6 separate regions of the Homo sapiens genome follow, and regions 1, 2, 4, 5 and 6 are each reported to be linked to region 3. The links are microRNA targets in miRTarBase. Many come from high-throughput screens and were not tested one by one. Region 3 holds a microRNA gene; each other region holds the end of a gene's coding sequence. Distances are from middle to middle.

Region 1 (3,103 bases), 17 Mb from region 3:
ATCCATCAGCCCAATTTGCCAACAGCACCAGAGGCCTCTATGGGATCTCTCCTGCCAGAAGTCTGTGTTTCTGCCAGAGAGCACTAACCCAGTGCATCATCCTCACCTGGTCAGGATGTGTGGGACGCTTCACCTTCTTCCCCAAGGGAAGGTATCGAGCCCGCCTCCCTGCCTTCTCACCTCCCATGTGTACCTGAGGTCTGCCCTGAGGGATAGGAGCGATTCCTGGGCTTGACCTGGAAGCATGGCAGTTCGGGCTGGTGATGAGTCTCAGTTGCAGGATGAGGGGAAGCACCCCTTGCCCTGCGTATGTGGGCGCCAGGCAGCTCAGGGGTCCCGGGGGAGTGGAGAGCTGACCTTCTGCTGTTGTTTGCAGCCTCCTGCTCGGTGCGCTTGGAGAGGCCTTGCTGGTTTTCTCAGAGCGGAAGAGCTCCTGAACAAGACGGTCAAGAGAAAGACTCACAGGCTGCTGCGGGAGAACAGCTTGTACACCTGTGTACGAGCCCCTGGTCTCATAGCTCCCTGTTGGATGTGTCAGAAAGAGGAATGCAAGGACAGTGAGGCCAGGTGGGCAGTGCCATCACCCTCACCCAAGTGAATGTGGTGGTGGCTGATGAGGCCGAGGCCCTGGTGCTTCAAGGAGCACCCTTTCTGGGGGTCTGCAGGTCACTGCAGAGGAGCGGTCTGTTACATCTTCCCATTTGGAGAACCTCTCTCAACCGTGCTGTAGCTGGTTCTGCAGAAACAGGAAGTACAGGATTTCATGGGCTGGCTCTGCTCGCCTCGACTGAGCTTCACACCTCTGGATGCCACATGCTCTCTCCCAAACACTGCTTTCAGTGCAAGGTAGTGGGCCTAAGGGGTTTGGTTGTCTTTTTTTTTTTTCATTTTTAAAATTTTAAATTTTTATTTATTATTATTTTTTAGAGACAAGGCCTCACTCTATCGCCTAGGCTGAAGCACAGTGGTGCGATCACAGCTCGCTACAGCCTTGACCTCCTAGGATCAAGCCATCCTCCTGCCTCAGCATCCACAGTAGCTGATGTGCACCACCAGACCCGTCTCATTTTTTCTATTTTTATTATTTTAGAGATGGGGATCTCACTGTGTTGGCCAGGCTGGTCTCAAACTCCTGGGCTCAAGCAATCCTCCCACCTTGGCCTCAAAGTATTGAGATTACAGGCATGAGCCACTGCACCCGGCCTTTCTCATTTTTATTTTTAAATTGACAGACGTAACAGTGCGCATTTATCACGCACAACACAATGCTTTGGGAATGGTTAAATCTAGCTCACAAATGCATTACCTCACACGGTTGTCATTTTTGTGGTGAGGCTTGGTTGTATGTTTTGTTTCATTCATGTTTTTACATCCTTGGAGTCTCCTCTGGGTCCGTCCTTTCTTTGCTGTCATGCTGGCTTGCCTAAGGCCCACCGCCACCTGCGTACGAGCATTTTAAACTCTAGAGTGAGTGACAGCCTTTTTATGGTTGGTGTTACTATTTATTTCCTGCCTCTAAACTTCTCGTGGTCCTTATAAACTTGTCAGGATGTGTGTTGCGTTGAATTCTGCATGTCCTTTTTTTGCCCACCCTCAGGTTAAGCTGGTACTAACTTATCCCCAGAGGAAACAGGGTTTATGAGCACTGACAGATGTCTTCCCTGGGCAAAAAAAAAAAAAATAGTATATGTATACACACACACATACACATTTATATTTATATTTCTTAAAGCTTTTAATCCCTTTCATTCCCTGATATCTCAGAGATTTCAAATCATTGAACACTGAAGTATATTTTTCAGGCCAGATGAAAAATTGTATTAAAACCCTATTCCTGGTCAGGCGCAGTGGCTCACGCCTATAATCCCAGCACTTTGGGAGGCCGAAGTAAGCAGATCACCTGAGGTCGGGAGTTCAAGACAAACCTGGCCAACATGGTGAAACCCTGTCTCTACTAAAACTACAAAAAAATTAGCCTGATGTGGTGTTGTGTGCCTGTAGTCCCAGCTACTTAGGAGGCTGAGGTAGGAGAATTGCTTGAACCTGGGAGGCGGAGGTTGCAGTGAGCCAAAATTACGCCACTGCACTCCAGCCTGGGCAACAGAGCGAGACAGTCTCAAAAACAACAACAACAACAAAAACCCTATTCCTTGCCTTTGTAGGAGTCAAAATAAATGAACTTCTTTTTTCTTTTTTTTATTATTATACTTTAAGTTCTGGGGTACACGTGCAGAATGTGCAGGTTTGTTACATAGGTATGCACGTGCCATGGTGGTTTGCTGCACCCATCAACCTGTCACCTACATTAGGTATTTCCCCTAATGTTATCCCTCCCCTAGCCCTCCATCCCCTGACAGGCCCTGGTGTGTGATGTTCCCCTCCCTATGTCCATGTGTTCTCATTGCTCCAAAATAAATGAATTTACACAAAATGGTCACTTGTTTCTGAACCCACCAAGAAGGTTTAAGAAAATAATGACTAACTATAAATATTTCTGTTCCTAATAGATGTTTCAAATACCTTACCACTCTGCCAGGTATCAGAGAGTTTGGGCCATTCAGGGTGACCCATGAGTCCTCCGCAAGCAGGGAGCCAGGCCCTGTAGTGTTGAATATCCACGTCATTGATGGAGACCCCCTGCCCATGGCGTCCGGGAAATACGCCTTGTCCATACTCAGCCCCATGGAGAATATAGTCAACTCAGTCGGTGGCTGTTGTTGCCTCTGCATGTGTTCCCCAACTTGTTGAGAAAAGAGAGAAAAAGAAACAACTAGCAATGGATTCGTGTATTTGGAACTTGAGTACCTTAAATTCATGTCCTTGTCTTTTCCTGGTCTCTGCTTGTCATGTAAGGTAAAAATGCTAAGAGTGACCTTAACACATATGGCTTTCAACTTACTTTTGTTGTTGTTGTTTTGTCTTGTTTGTTTCCATGAAAAATATTTATATTATTTTTTTTCTAACCTCCAGCTGATTAAACAGGTACCTTACACTTATTAATTTGGAGGAAAAATAATAGTAGCTGCCTGACATACCTTCTCACTTTGAAGAGTCTCTACTTTTTTAATTTAAATTTTTTTTATTTTTAATTCTGGGGTACATG
Region 2 (3,103 bases), not on the chromosome of region 3:
TGTAATAGAATACCATGGTTTTTAAATGCTGCTGACCAATTTTCATTTCTTCTTCCATTTTGTGGGAGATTATATTCATACTTTGTTCACATTCCTTTCAATATTCAGCTTACAAAGAGCATGAGAAGAAGCTATTGAAGTATTTGCTTGGGGAGCCCAAATTTCACTAGAGTGTTTGCAGCCCTTGAATATATTTTGAATATATTAGTTTTTTGTTTTTTTGTTTGTTTTTTCCTTTTTCTTTTCGGTTGTGGAAGGAACAACCTCTTTCCCATTGTTTAGCCCTAGAGTGTTTTAGGGACAAACTATAATACTGTACTAGGATAATAATTTGCTAATCTTTCAACATATTTTATATTGTCGTAGTATTGATTTTTCTATTTTCATTTCACTTTGAAAAATCTTCCCAAAATTTTCTCTCCTTTCTTAAAAAAATTATACTGATATATACTATTCATTAAAAAGTAATTGAGAGTACTATTTATTTTTTCATACAGGTTTAAAAAACGAATGCTAATAGAACAACTGGAGAACTTCTTGGATGAAATTCATCGAAGAGCCAATCAGATCAACCATATTAATAGCAATTAAAAGAAAATAGAATGTGGCCACTTATTTCACTATCTTCTTCAAATACAAAGTAAATACAAGACTGTTGTGATCTTGCATTCATTTTCTGACATGCATTGTTGGCTATTTGAAATACTAAAAGCAAATCTACAGATCCTTTTTCCATCATTTTACAGTGACCTTTTCTTCATTTTGGTTTATTTTTGTAATGTGAAAAGTATCACTCTAAAAAACATTTTTAATTTAACAAACTAAAAATATTCCTCCAAATCTCTTGCTTGTCATTGACTCTTGCGTGTCAATTTCCCTCAGGTTCTATTTTCTTAAACCAACCTTTAAAATTGTCACCTCTGTTAAGGTTGAACTTTGCCAAAAAAAAAAGAAGTTACTTTGTAATTTTTGGGGAAAAAAGCACATACATTAAAACTAGGTAATGTTTTGTATATACAGTTATTTTGGATATATTATTGTAAGTTGTACAAATGTATTTTGAAGAATATTTAAGAAAAGCACTTTTGTTATTCCATCAATAAATGCTCTATTTTACTCTTGTGTGGTTTAGGAAATAATCACATTTAAAGTAATCATTTAAAAACATCCTAAGATAATGGAATTTTAAAGGCCTTGCTTTTTAGCATTGGAAAAATACACCACTTGAAGTTCATGTTTGTTAAGCCTAACTGTAATTACATGTTACATAATCTGCATTGCCTTTTTACTATATGTTCGTAGTTTTTGTTGGCCATGCCAACATACTCCCATTTCTGCCTAGATTATGGGAATGACTTTGTATGGGGCAGATAGACAGATACTTTAAAAGCTATTTAAAAAGCAAACAACTTTGGATATTATTGGTTTCCTTACTTCAACACCTTTTCCTTTATCACTAGGATTGTGGATGGCACGAAGCTGAAGCTGTTAGGGAGTGGTAGGTTTGGAGTACAGTACATGCTCTGAAATATCTAGCCTTTAGCAGCTTCATGCCATGCTTGCAAAAGCCCACAACAAATTGGAGGCCTCCTTGTTCTGCTCTGCTGTTCTCACACTTAAACTCTGTTTTATTTATAAGCTAAATGGAAAGGAAACACCTTTAAGATGACTTTGCTCATTTTGCATCCCCCCTGAGTTTCACAGGATAAGGAAAACCACGCTATTCATTCTCCACCCTCAATTCAACATGGCCTAGAGTATCCGTACTGAGGAAGCAATCTTATGGCCTGACTCACTCACCATTCATGATCACTGCTGTGCCTTTTAGTGGTTTGGGGGGTAAGCAGTAGAAAAGAAGGTCAAAATAGATTTGGATTAAGAGTAGGCAAAATAAACTTATAACATTTAAAAACTGAAGTATTTTTAGGTTTATAATATTGAAAATCACATACCCTTAGCTTTTTACACTTTATCAGACATTTTTTTAAATTTCAAGGGTATAGCAAAATGAAATTATAACTTTATGAAGAAAAGCATTGATGAAAGTGGAGAACATGCATTTAGTCTAGGGGATTTGAAACTCTCCCAATACTGAAGACAAACCCTGTCAAGAAAAAGAAGAATTTAATATTATATAGTATTTTCATATGCAGTTCTTTAAGCTTTGTTTACTTCTATACAAATACTTTTAAGTAATGCAAGATAACATTTAATAGATGGAATTGTTAAGGTAATTGCCTGTAGTCACATTGCTAAATTCATTGAGAGTTACACAAAATCCAGAATATATTGTCTGTTCCTAAATTATATATATTTAGATTCTGGAATTACTAGGAGGAATTAGAAGTCATTCAGATAAAAATTCATACTTAACAAGAGTATCTAGGAAAGAGATTCAGCCCATCCCAATATTGAGCAGCTTTCCTTATCAGAAAGTTTTATTTTCTGTTTCACAGATTGCTCATGACCTTTAATACATTTTTCTGAATGAACCCTGGAGGGAGGTGAGAAGTAGCAGTTTTGTTCATCTCTTCTTTTTGTCCTTTATCTCTCTGCCACTGTTCTCACCTCATCCTAAAACCTGGTCAGGAGGGTTTGAAACCTATCAGAACTAAAGGTTAATATCTCATCTCCCTCAGGCTTTTTTCATTTAAAAAAAAAATGGGTATATTAGTTAAATTAGAATACTTGTTGTAGAATTATTGTCAAAGGGGAAGGGAAATACATCTAGGGGAAACATCATGTCTTTTAGGCCCTTTATGTCACTGAATGACTTAAGGCTCGACAAATGATATTCTTGGAAAGTTTAATCTTGAGGTTTTCAAATCTTTTTTTTTAATGTCTCCCATGTTTCTCATTTGCTGATTGATTCATTAGTTGCTCTTAGTAAGATTTGTCAGTTGGAAATAATGAAGGCTGAGACTCATTTCTAAACTCTTCCATAACCATCACCAGAAGAGCAGCCACTGTGTTGTGTGATGTAGGCTAATGCCTCCCAGATAGAGGTAAAGTCACAAGGACTATTAGAATTCCAGTGGATTGTGGAACTGGTTTTGGATTATCCTTATATTTTCATTCTGATTACTGAGGCAGTTCTGAAAAC
Region 3 (3,103 bases):
GCAGTGATGCCATCAAGGCTCACTGCAGCCTCAACCTCCCATGTCCAAGTGATCCTCCCATCTCAGCCTCCCGAGTAGCTGGGACTACAGGTACACACCACCACACTCAGCTAATTTTTGTTGTTGTTGTTGTACAGATGGGGTCTCCCCAGCCCAGGCTGGTCTGAAACTCCTGGTCCCAAGCAATCCTCCCACTTCAACCTCCCAAAGTGCTGGGATTATAGGCATGAGCCACTGTGCGCAGCTGGGGCCTTACTTTATGTACCCTGTAGATAGGATAGACAGACAACAAATATGCAAAACAAATGAACAGACAGTGTAATTTCATCAAGTGTTTAGTGATTAAACTAAAACAGACTGATGTGACAGCGAGTCAGGGGGTGCTACTGTGGATAATTTTCACGACTGACAGGAGGAGGTGATGTTTGAAGTGGGACCTACATTAAGAGAAGCAGGAAGCCCTGCAAGGATTTGGGTGCCGTGCTCCAGGTGGGCTGCAGTGAGTGCACAGGTGCTGAGGAGCATTTTGCTGGGCACCTCTGGGGACAGTGGGAGGGCCACTGTTGCCAGTGAGGCGAGCAGGGAGAAAGCAGACTGAGACAGTGGGGTCGGAGAGCTTGAGGGGCTAGACCCAGTCCATATGTGGCCTTGTAGGACTCAGTGACGAGTTTGGAGTTTCCTTAATGTGCTGGGAAGCTACTGGCAACTTGAGCAGGGCAGGGATGAGTTCTTAGCCACAACACTGTAGCCACATGTTTTGGGACACCTCATGTTTTTAGCGTGTCTAAACCTAAACTAGTGCCCTCGCCTGAGTTTGTGCTTTTGCCTATTTCTTGTTGAGTGGCTCTGCTCACATTGCTGCCCCAGTGGAGATTTGACATCCAGGCCAGGCCCTTCTTTCTTTATTATTGCCCATGTCTGTTCTGTCACCAGGTCCTATTGGATTCCACCCCATTCTTTTTGGGTTCTTCTCTATTTCTCATCCTGACTGTTGCAGTTAAGCCATTGTCATCTCATTTACTAAATTGGTATTGACGACCTCCTGTGCCCCAGACGTTATTCCAGGTGCTGGAGATACAGTGACAAAGAGCCCTCTCGGAGGGCTCAAGTAAAGGAACTAGGATGAAAAGTGCTGAGTGTCATGCTAAGGGAAGCGCTGGCTGTGGAAGTGTCCCTCACCTAGCCTGGGATCGGGGTGGTGGTTGCAGGAGGCATCCAAGGAAATGACATTTACACGGAGGTCTGAGGGGCAGCGAGGTGGTGGGAAGGTGGCTCCAGGTAGGAGGTGAGAAGAGAGCGCACAAAGTCAGGTTGTAGCACAGTCTGGCTGGGAAGAGAAGTCGGCTGGTCAGGTGGGGAGCCAGGTCAGGAGGTGCCTCAGAAGCCGTGGCAGCCTGGACTTTATCCTTAGGGCGGGAGAGCCATGGAGGGGCCATAAATGGGGGAGAGAGAGCCAAGCCGTAGAGGCATTTTAGGTCCACATATGGACAGTAAGTTTGGAAGGTATAAAGACTGGAGTTCCTGTATCGACTGGGGCAGATGCAGTGATCTAGGTGGCCGCCAGTGGAAGGCACCTGTGAGTCAGGGTTTGCAGTTCCTGTGTGGACGTCTGAATTAATTCTGCAGATCAGACTGCGTTACACTGCAAGAGCAGCCCGAGTTTCCCAATGCACCAAAGCAGAAGCTTTTTGGAAACCTATATATTTTTTCATACTATTGGGAATTTCTTCAGAATATGAAGGCTTTATCGAATTGTGTCTGAAATGAATTTCATTTAAATACTGAATTAATTGAAAGCTTTGCTTCTGAATATTTTTCCATAGATTTCACGGTGCTTTAGAAATTTCATTTTGCCTCATGTTTTAGTACTGGCAATAACTGCCAGTAATAGAAGTGGCAGTGTTGAGGGAAATGGTGGTGGCGAGTGTGGGATGGTCTCAGTGGGCAGCTTTCTTACGATGAGGAGAGGCGGGGCGTGACTGGTTCTATCGTGTTTTCACTGGGACCAGGACTCACTGTGGAAGGGCAGGAAGTACCACTTAGTGGTGAGAACAGCACGCAGGCTCCAGTTTACCATTCTGGTGATTTGACTTTAATGAAGCCCTTTGGAATTTTGACTGTAATCATGGAAGAGGTCATTTGCTTCTTTATTTGTACAGCTTTTTGTATCCATCTGTCCCACGAATATTTGTTGACACTCACTTCCTGTTAGGCACAATCCCACAAAAGAAATGTGGACTTTGCGGATGAAGTAGACCTCAATGTTGCCTTGCATCTAAAAGGCGAGACATTGCCAGGGAGTTTATTTTGTAGCTCTCTTGATAAAATGTTTTAGCAAACACTAGCGTGCCAGGCTTGGTCCTAAGCCCTTTGCCGGTGTTAACCCATGTAATCCTCGTGACAGCTCTGTGTGCTTGGTGCTGTTGTTATTGGCATTTTACACAAAAAAGAACCAGAGCACAGGGGATAAGTGACTCGCCCAAGTCACAGCTGTTCAGTGGCAGTGACTGGATTTGAACCCAGCCACTGCCACTCCAGAGCTGGATTTTCAGGAAGATGTAGCAGGAGTGTGAAGGGCGGGCATGTACATCTGCTGTTTGTGTGTTCACAGGGGAAATGTGGGCAACCAGGGAGGGCTTTTATTTTACTTGAATTCTTCAGAGACCACTGATACACATGGAAGATGAAAAATTACAACAATGAAGAAAAGTCCTCTCTTAAACCCAAAAATTTTGTTTCTGCTATGAATTTCTAAGACCTTCCTTAAAAAAACCCCAATAATTTAGCTTTGTCAGTATCTTAGGAAACAAAACAAAACAAAATAACACAGTTTTTCCTTTGAGTAATCTGTCACATTCAAGTTTATTATTATTATATTTTAACATTTTAGTTTATGGAAGTGGTAAAGTGGGTTTTTTTTTTTTATCAATTCACTTGACATTTGGGCAGATCTGATGGAGTTTGTAAAGCAAGGCCTGCACTATAATTCCCTTGTACTTTCTGTGGGATTTTCCTACTGTGATTCACTCGAAGATGTATTTTGTACGGTGCATAATCTGTTTAATTGAGAGTTTGCTTTGCCAACACTGGGTTGGCTTCCTTG
Region 4 (3,103 bases), not on the chromosome of region 3:
CCACGTCGCGACCGCACAGGGGGAAGTTCTCCCGCCAGGCGGCCTGGGCGGCGCTGCACAGCGCGCGCGGGGTCAATCTCATGGCGGCACCGTCCCCGGAAACGCTCCCGCAGCTGACCTCCTCTGCGCCGCTGCGACCCGCCTCTGAGGTTCCGGCGCTGCGGGCCTCCGGCACTGCGGGCTTCCGGCGCTCCAAGGGGCCGCACCACGGCCTGCGCGTGCGCACGACGTTGCCTCCGCCTCCGGCGAAGCCCGGAGTGGGCGGGGCCCGGGCCCAGAGGGAGGGACGAATGGTGGGTCGAGCGTCGGGGCGGGACTGCGAGGAGACCCGGGGGGACGGGGAGGTTCCTGGGTTTTGTGGGTTTAAGTAATTCGCAGATTTATTAACATTCATTAAATATTAAAAATCATCGTTCTCCCTTAAGCATATCCTGAGTATAAGTGTAAAAATTTAGCAATCTCTTTTTACAATTTGGTTAAAATCTCTCAAATACTTTAAATTTACCTTATAAATGTAATCTCTTCATTTTCTTTTTAAGTACTTCAGGGTTTTTGTTTGTTTTGTTTTGTTTGAGACGGAGTCTCCGCTCTGTTGCCCAAGAGTGCAGTGGCACGATCTCGCTCATTGCAACCTCCAACTCCTGAGTTCAAGGGATTCTCCCACCTCAGCCTCCGGAGTAGCTGGGATTACTGGCGCCTGCCACCACGCCGGCTGATTTTGTATTTTTAGTAGAGATGGAGTTCCACCATGTTGGCCAGGCTGGTCTCCAACTCCTGACCTCAAGTGATCTACCTGTCTCGGCCTCCCAAAATGCTGGGATTACAGGCATGAGCCACCGCGCGCAGCCTCAAGTACTTCAGGGTTTAATATAACAAACTGTTTCCAAATACTGACTGCAGTTCTGCTAAATTAAACCGATTAATTAATGAGGCTGAAATATTCTCCACTGTCCAAGACTAGACATAAATATAGTCGGATTTCAACTCTAAATCAGCAGTCAGCAACTGCTCAATTGCACACTGCGTTACAAGAGTATTACTCTACCGGAATTTTTATTTTTGAGACGGAGTCTCGCTCTGTCGCCAGGCTGGAGTGCAGTGGCGTGATCTTGGCTCACTGCAACCTCCGCCTCCCGGGGTTCAAGCAGTTCTCCTGCCTTAGCCTCCTGAGTAGCTGGGACTACAGGTGCGCACCACCACGCCCGGCTACTTTTTTTGTATTTTTAGTAGAGATGGGGTTTCACCATGTTGGCCAGGCTAGTCTCGAACTCTGACCTCAGGTGATCTGCCCACCTCAGCCTCCCAAAGTGCTGGAATTACAGGCATGAGCCATGGCACCCAGCCTCTACTGGAATTTTTTAAACAAGCTACTGAAAATACCAAACATGCTCAAATTCTAAGTACAAAAATATTGCCATGGTTCTGATGTTCTTAAACCACCTAATACCCTAACGCCTAGCTGTAAATATTTTTGGGCATGAGAGAGTGGCCCCTCCGTGGAAGACAGAAGCCTCCCAGGTGGTTTCTGGGCTGAGTGGGGGCAGTCAGGGCCTCCTGCTAGGTCAATGCCCCCAAGCCCCCTCCTCACCAAGCCGGTCCCTCACACCCAGAGGGGGCAGCCTGGGTCTTGCTGCCTTTCTCCCTGGGATACAGAATTGATGAAACCCTAAATGTCAATGATAAAGATTTTTGTACTTTAAGGAAGCTGCATTCCCTCATGGTCCTAGGAGCACAAAACCACAATAAAACCCTGTGGAATCTGAATTTCTCTCCCAGGCGTCTGATGGGCAGGTGTCCCCAGAGAGAACAGTCTGGTGACACAGCAAATGCAGGTGGGGCTGCTGGCTACAGAGGGAGGCTGGGGCTCGGGAGGGTGGGGTCAGGGAACATCCTAGGAGGGGCAATTTGAACAGAGACCAGAGGGTGAGAAGAGAGGAGCCCTGCAGATCCAGGCTGGGGTGGAGGGGCCGGAGAGGGGCCTGGACTCCCAGCACATTCACCCCAATACCACGTGGTACCCCAGCACTGCCCACACCCCAACATCCCCCGGCACCCAGCACACTCACCCCAACACCCCCCAGCACCCAACACTACCCACACCCCAACACCCCCCAGCACCCCAGCACTGCCCCCACCCCAACACCCCCCAGCACCCAGCACACTCACCCCAGCACTGCCCACGCCCCACACACTCCCTGGCTCCCATGGGCTGGGCACCGTTTCTCTTTTCAGGCCTTATTATGTATTCACTTCCTCCAGAAAACCCCCGGCCTCAGGGCAGGGCAGGGCACCCCTCATCTCCCCAGTGCCCTGCGAACCTGTGAAGTGGGCGCCTGATGCAGCATCAGTTGATGAGCAAGAGGAGGGTTGTCAGCTATGCTGTCATCCCAGGCAGCAGCCACGAGAATGCAGGGGCACGAGAAGCAACTACAGGACCCAGAGTTCAGGGAACCCAGAGTGTGGGGCCATGTGTGGTTGTGGGGATTGGAGACACAGGGCCCTGTGCAACCTGGGCCCGGAGCAAGACAAAGACAACAGCAGCAGATGCTGGAGCCCCAAGGCAGGAAGGACAGGACAGCCTCAAGGCAGGAAAGATGGCTCTGGGAGCTGTGGCTGTAACTTGCTTTATGTGTCCAGCATCTCCGTGAGCATCTGGTGTCTCAGCTCAAGTCAACCCTGGCCAGACTCCAATAACAGACACAAGAACTGAGAAGGTGGCCCTGGTTACCAAAAACCAGAGGACCCTCATTAACATCCCCAAATTTCAAGCCAGACTGAAATCTGTCAGAAGAAATGAGGGTCCCAGCCTACCCCCGACACGGGTGGAACAGAGTAGGCTGGGCCCAGCTAGAGCCTGGGCCTGGGCTGCTGCACCTGCGGGGCCCACAGACTGAGGAGGCGGTCGGCCTCCCTCCATCCCGACAGCAGAGCCCCGTGCGTCGTGGAGTAAAACGTGCGATGTGTGGCTTCCCCCGCAAACAGGATCTGGAGCTGCAAAGAAGAGCCAGGGTTAGAATGGGGATGCAATTCAGACAGCAGGGTCTGGGCAAGGAAACACAGAAAATGGCTCACAAGCATCCACCAAGAAGCAGGAAAACAGCTC
Region 5 (3,103 bases), not on the chromosome of region 3:
GTGAGTGTTGTCTTTAAGGGTAGAGGCCTCTTGATTGTCTTCAACAGGAAAGCACTAGTTTTTTTGTTTTTTGATTGCTGTTTTTTGTTTTGTTTTTTTTTTTTTTTTTTTTTTTTGAGACAGAGTCTCGCTCTGTCACCCAGGCTGGAGTGCAGTGGCGTGATCTCGGCTCATTGCAAACTCCACCTCCCAGGTTCAAGTGATTCTCATACCTCAGCCTGCCGAGTAGGATTACAGGTGCTCGCCACCACAACCAGCTAATTTTTGTATTTTTAGTAGAGACAGGGTTTCACTGTGTTGGCCAGGCTGGTCTTGAACTCCTGACCTCAAGTGATCTGCCCGCCTCAGCCTCCCAAAGTACTGGGATTACAAGCATGAGCCACCACACCTGGCCAGCATCGGTCCTTAAAGCATGGGACTCTTCTGTAGATTCAGAGGTTCAAAGGAATCTGAGGATTTAAAACTTGAATGTATCAGCCCAGATGTTTCCATCTCTCAGGGTCCTATTTTTCCCCAGTAAGGACTCTGAGCTTGCATAACAGACTGGGCTAAGCTGACAATTTAATATTCTTGGAACTCTGCTATTTTTTTTTTTTTTTTGAGATAGAGTCTCCCTCTGTCACCCAGGCTGGATTGCAGTGACATGATCTCAGCTCACTGCAACCTCCCAGGTTTGAACCTCCTAGGTTCAAGCAATTCTCCTGCTTCAGCCTCCGGAGTAGCTGGGATTATAGATGCCTGTCACCACACCTGGCTAATTTTTGTATTTTTAGTAGAGACAGTGTTTCGCCATGTTGGCCAGGCTGATCTCAAACTCCTGACCTCAGGTGATCCACCTGCCTCAGCCCCCCAAAGCGTTGGGATTGCAGGCGTGAGCCACCACACCCAGCCATCTGCTATTCTCATAAGTCCTGGGCCTGGTCCTCAGCTTTTTAATTCCTTCTATTACAGAAGAGAGTTTCTTAATATGCTGCCAAGGAGGCCCAATGGTTTTCACATTTAGCTTTTAATTAATTGTCCTTAGCCTTTCATTGTCTTTTTCAAAAGCATTAATTAAGTCCAGCAATAGCCAACCAATACCATTGTCTTTATTATTACTACTTGCCAACATTTCTCAGATGCCTAGTACATCACACCCTAGTGCACTCCCTTCCACTGGTATACCATCTTGGTTCATCACCAGTGAAAGTTTTAACAATTGCACTGCTATCTTGTGCCTGTGCTCATCTATGGCCAAGGATGGAGTCCTCATTGCCAGCCAGACAGCAGGCAATCTAGCTCCAAAATCCCATCTTAGCATCCATTTCTTATCCCTCCTGGCACAACCTGTCACAAGTTGTGTTCTCCTAGAAGCAAATTCTGAGATGGAAACTAGCAGAAAATTTCTAAGGGAGCACTCTCAGGATAGAAACCTATGAGCGGAATGGAAGGAAGTAAAATTGAGTAAAGAAGAAACTGAGCTACAAAGTAGTCCCAGCAAAACTGGAGCTGATCCTGTGGGGAGTTTTGAATCTGTATGACTATTCTGAGTTCAGGCCTTGATATGCCCACATCAGCCAGTCACTGGATGCAGGCTGCCCTGCAAAGCAGCATGACCTTGGGCAAGGTGGCTCTCTCCTGAGGAGATTAATTTGAGTAAGTACTCAGTTCTGGAGCTGGGATCTGGACAGTACAGAACAGAATCCAGGATGGTGATGTAAGGGGGCTTTTCAGAACTAAGGGGAACAGAGATGGAACTATCTTTCAGGTGAGGAAGTGCTTTGAGATATATAACCCTCTTGCTAAGGCATCATTGCTTTCTTCATTTGCTAGTTAGTATGATTTGATTCTGGTTACAAAACTTGTGTTTACTGTAGAATACGTTTAAAGTTGTTTTGTTGATAAGACTTCTGGAGAAACGTCTGGCCAAAAATAACTGTTTCCTGGGTTTAGAACAACAGATCCGAGACAGCTTAACCTTTGGTTATATTTCTGCTTTAATATATAGTAACATTTGAAAATACACAGATATCCAGGAAAAAAAGGTAAAGCAGTATGAGGTATTGACAGCACAACTGTGTTTTAATTTGGGAGTTAATTTGGGGTGTTATGTAACAGCAATCATACTTGTAGACAAACACATCCACTAGCTCTGCAAACACATTCAAAGGTAATAGTATATAGTACACTCCACCCTGTAAAATATGTCAAATACCCCCACTCTACAAATTCACTGTGTTTCATTATTTTTTTTTTTGTTTTTATAAGAAAAGGGGCATATCATTATAATTCACAATCCAAGTCAGAGTCTTAATTTAGGTATGAAATATTACCTGCCAATTTGCTTCTCAAGCTACTTTAAAAATATATATATATTCTTTAAAGCCATTTTATGGCCATGGGAATCTAATTAATTTCATAATGATGTTGGTTGAACATGATACCAAAAAATGCAGGTATTTTCAAGAACAATAAAATAGATAACAGCATTAAAGCATAATCCTTTAAGAATTCATGAGAAAAAAAAGGATGATAAAACTTAAGCTTCTTTTTCAGATGTTTAAAAATTTCTATAAAATTCTTTGTCCCAAGATTAATCATATAACCATGGTACATAAAATATGCTAACTACATTGCCTGGTGTCAAGGTGGGAAAATCCTCTTTTATAACATAAAATCCTCTTCTAATCCATGTTGACCCAAGTCCTGGCTGTCTGAGGGCAGATTCCTGTCAAGAGACCTAAGGTTGTCATGGAAAGCATCACTTTCGTCTACTAGTTGGTAATCCTGTTCCATTTCCGTTAGGAAGCCACTCCCAGATCCTGATCCAGAGCCGGAGCCGGAGCCGAAGCCTGATCCAGAGTAGTCCTCAGAAAGTGGGAAGATACGATTCAAGTCCTGGATTCTCGTCTTTCTGAAGTATGAAAGAAAAATGGGAAAAAAACCAGTGGAGTTTGATATGTGGGAAAGATAATTATAATAGTTTTTTTAATATAAGGAGATAAATACAGCCATCTAGTTGCTCAAATTAAGAGATTTAAAAGCTTCCCAATTATTCAATGTTTTAAAATCAACAAAAAAACAGGTCAAATGTTCCTATGTGTTTGCCTATACTTATTGCACC
Region 6 (3,103 bases), not on the chromosome of region 3:
TCTTGTTCCTTCCCCAGGGATCTAATCCTAGCTTGTTTACTGTGTGTGATCCCAGCCTTGTGCTCTCCCTGCCAGGTCATGAGGTGGTTTTGGACTGTGGTTTCCAGTCTGACCCAGGAGGAGTTGGCTCGGCTACTTCAGTTCACAACAGGCTCCTCTCAGCTACCACCTGGAGGCTTTGCCGCCCTCTGTCCCTCATTTCAGATTATTGCCGCTCCGACCCATAGCACGCTGCCTACTGCACACACATGGTAGGTATCTGCCCGCCTGATGCATGCCCAGTGTTTTTGGTGGTATGAGTTAATCACTTCTCCCTTGCCCTTCCAGTTTTAACCAGCTGTGCCTCCCTACATATGACTCCTATGAAGAGGTGCACAGGATGCTGCAGCTGGCCATCAGCGAGGGTTGCGAGGGCTTTGGCATGCTCTGACCACTCTCCTGTCATCCAGTTGGCTCCCATGCTCTCTGGAGCTTCTGGGCGCAAGTTACAGACATCATAACCACTGATCCTAACACACATAACCATCAGCCAGAAGATGCCGCATGCTCCCCTGTGTCTGGAGGATTTTGTCACCTACAAGCCTTGTCTTTACCTCACCTGCTCCCTGCCCATATCTACCACAGGCCACTTTGGCATGGTATGTAAGCTGAGCTCTTCATTCTGTCATGAGAAGAGGACCATGCTGCTATCATTTATTTGGTCCTTTGAAGATCTCAGTAGCTGAGGGAGATGGCACACGGGGCTCAGCCCTGTTGGGAAACTGGTGTGGAGACCCTTAAATCCACACTGTGCTCCAAAACTCCCTCTGCTGATACTCCTTGGAGACACCCTCTTTGGCCCTCACTACTTGACCAGACTGGTACTTGAGTCCTTCTCATGGGTGGGGTGATTGCCTCTTCTCATCAGGAGCCAGGAGAGAGGGGGACAGATAGGAGGTGGCCCATAGGAGCAGTCCCGCTGCACAATGGTAGGCATAGGCCATGGCACTGGACTGCCTCTAAGGACTGCTAAAAAGAATATTTTTTTGTGGTGTCAGAACTGGAAAAAGCACTTTCCCTTCGGGCATTTCTGGAAATGATTATTAATCCACAAAGAAGAACTCTGTAAGCTTTTTCTTGAATTGTAGCCAGTGAGAAAAGCAGATAGACTGAAGAATATGAAGGATAGCTGAGCTGTAGCCTCCAGAGTGGGGCATGCCTAGGCATATGGCTGGCTTGGAGACTACTGATGCTTTTCCCTGAGTTTGTTATTGGCACTGAAGTATGGCCGGCTTGGGCCACTGACTTCCCCATTATGTAGTCTGCTAAAAGCTGGGGATCCTTTAGCATTCTACTGAAGAAAATTTTGTAGCAAAAGATTAGAACAGTAAGAATAGTATGCCAGCAATCCCTGATTCTCTCTCTGCTTGGTGTTCTCTGGCAGCACTAAGACAAAGGAACAGGGACTAGGAGTTTACGTGCTTATCACAGGTCCTTGGCGTCAGGACACTAGGGATGAACATGGAGGTGATATGTTACACAGTAAACACCTGCCAACCCCTGTACTCCCCTTTGCTCCATCAGTTATCAGGAAGGAGAACTAAGGAGGGAGGAAGCTTATTAGGTTCACTGTTGAATGATGATTGAAGAGTACCTGCTGCTGTATCTTGGAAGATGACAACATCCTTTTTCATTACTGTTTGATTGAAAATAATTTCAAGATTCAAAATCTCATTGACTTCCCAAATTTGTGTTTTTAAGAAGGCTTTGCTGCAAGCTACCATTCCCAATGGGGCAGTCAACTCTGAGAATATTACAAGCCATCTTTATTGCCAAAACCAGCAAGTACACAGAGTCCTGAAACAAGGCAGGACTTTGGCAATGCCTTGGCCTCCTGGAAGCATGTCTGAGCCCTCCTGTTCGCAGGGATCATGAGGAACAAGCCCTCCTGAGCTGCTACAGTTCCTGCCTGACCTCAGTCTTTCGCAGTCATCATTTGTCCTTTCTTGGCACATGGGTGCTGACCTCACTCATCCTTGGGGTCCGGGATCCAGCATCAGGGTCTCTATACCCCAGGATCCTCCATGCCACATGGTCACTGCTCTCCTCAGGGACCAGGACAAGGTGCTGCTGCTTGCCCAAATGTTTTCCCATGGGATATGTACCGGAAGGTTTATCACCACCCTGGGAAACATAATGCTGCCCCTTGGGCCCAGAAAGGGGTTTCCAGCTGGGGGCACGTGGACTGGTTCTGCTGTTTTTGGCAGTCGCTTTTCTGAATTCTCCCCTCCGGCAGCCTTCCAGAGACTGATCCTGGAGATTGAGTTGATTGTCTTGGCTAGACCTGTCATTTTAAGCTCTAGTCATAGCACTTTTTCAGAGCATCTTAGGCACCATTGCAACCCAACCAGGGAAGCTGCATCCCTGTGGTGGTCCTTAGGCACCAGTCTTTGTTAAACAAAACCCTTTGGCACTATTGTGGTTTTCTATTCTCTGTCTGAACTCTATTCAAAAGTATCTTTGCTCTCTTGGGCCTTTTCTTTTACTGTTTTGTTTTTTTTTTTTCTAATCCTGCTTTCATACTAGCCAGTGTGGGGAAAAGGTACAATATGTCAAAGAGATGAGAGAGTGTTATTTCTTGGGCAATTTTCTATTAGTGTTTCTTATTTTGGCCAGTTCTTTTATTTATGTCCTTGTGACCCAGGTACTTGGGGGGCCAGCTACCCTTCTGGCCTTTTAGCGTCTTTGAAGGAGACCAGACATGAGTGAATACCTAGGAGAGTGTCAGCATGTTTCTGGAAAATTGGCAGAGACCAAGCCCTGCTGCAGATTCGTCAGGCCAGGTGAAAGGGCCAGGCAGTTGCAGCTGATGATGTAAATATTTTGTACAGTAGATAAATAAATGTTTAAAAGAACTAAGGAGTGAGTGGCTGCTTTAAATGGAGATTCATGGCTTGACTGGAAGGTGGGGAAGGAAAAGATTTGGAAATGATTTTGCATTTCCCCAGGAATTCCTCCTGAAGTGGTCGGCTCGGGGTAGAGTGTACACCTGGAGTCCTGGCCTGTCCCACTCTTGCCCTTTCACCCTTCCCTGATTGCTGTCCATGGTGCCAGGCAGGGCCAC

Evidence for each region. Region 3 holds the annotated microRNA hsa-miR-4317 (ACAUUGCCAGGGAGUUU, at 2,288-2,304, shown strand). A microRNA usually pairs through its seed, bases 2 to 8, with sites in the 3' UTR of a target mRNA and lowers its output. Matches are read on the target gene's strand: a 7mer-m8 pairs with bases 2 to 8, a 7mer-A1 pairs with bases 2 to 7 and ends in A, and an 8mer does both.
Region 1: the mRNA of SLC35D4 is a reported target of hsa-miR-4317. The part of its 3' UTR that is shown has no 7-base or 8-base seed match.
Region 2: the mRNA of INTS6 is a reported target of hsa-miR-4317. The part of its 3' UTR that is shown has no 7-base or 8-base seed match.
Region 4: miRTarBase lists PAOX as a target of hsa-miR-4317. The part of its 3' UTR that is shown has no 7-base or 8-base seed match.
Region 5: miRTarBase lists SRGN as a target of hsa-miR-4317. Seed matches in the 3' UTR shown: 7mer-m8 at 2,611-2,617.
Region 6: miRTarBase lists AREL1 as a target of hsa-miR-4317. Seed matches in the 3' UTR shown: 7mer-m8 at 1,857-1,863.

What each region holds. Positions count from the first base shown.
Region 1 is chr18:23,295,341-23,298,443 of GRCh38, reverse strand. SLC35D4 (solute carrier family 35 member D4) reads left to right here. Exons shown (of 15, transcript NM_032933.6): 15 at 377-2,431. The coding sequence ends at 437. Among named protein-coding and RNA genes, the nearest start is that of SLC35D4, 140 kb to the left of the region's middle.
Region 2 is chr13:51,363,240-51,366,342 of GRCh38, reverse strand. It overlaps INTS6 (integrator complex subunit 6), which reads left to right. Exons shown (of 18, transcript NM_012141.3): 18 at 498-3,103. The coding sequence ends at 591. SERPINE3 (serpin family E member 3) reads right to left here. Exons shown (of 10, transcript NM_001386375.1): 10 at 1,608-2,104. The coding sequence ends at 2,061. Among named protein-coding and RNA genes, the nearest start is that of MIR5693, 16 kb to the right of the region's middle.
Region 3 is chr18:6,373,600-6,376,702 of GRCh38, reverse strand. MIR4317 (microRNA 4317) reads left to right here and starts at 2,278; the gene lies at 2,278-2,342. All of the region lies in intron 1 of L3MBTL4 (L3MBTL histone methyl-lysine binding protein 4), which reads left to right.
Region 4 is chr10:133,391,200-133,394,302 of GRCh38, reverse strand. PAOX (polyamine oxidase) reads right to left here. Exons shown (of 7, transcript NM_152911.4): 7 at 2,609-2,991. The coding sequence ends at 2,848. MTG1 (mitochondrial ribosome associated GTPase 1) reads right to left here and starts at 146. Exons shown (of 11, transcript NM_138384.4): 1 at 1-146. The coding sequence starts at 82. RefSeq lists a silencer at 5-354.
Region 5 is chr10:69,103,661-69,106,763 of GRCh38, reverse strand. SRGN (serglycin) reads right to left here. Exons shown (of 3, transcript NM_002727.4): 3 at 1,959-2,893. The coding sequence ends at 2,644. Among named protein-coding and RNA genes, the nearest start is that of SRGN, 17 kb to the right of the region's middle.
Region 6 is chr14:74,661,047-74,664,149 of GRCh38, reverse strand. AREL1 (apoptosis resistant E3 ubiquitin protein ligase 1) reads left to right here. Exons shown (of 20, transcript NM_001039479.2): 19 at 76-251; 20 at 328-2,894. The coding sequence ends at 430. Among named protein-coding and RNA genes, the nearest start is that of LTBP2, 50 kb to the right of the region's middle.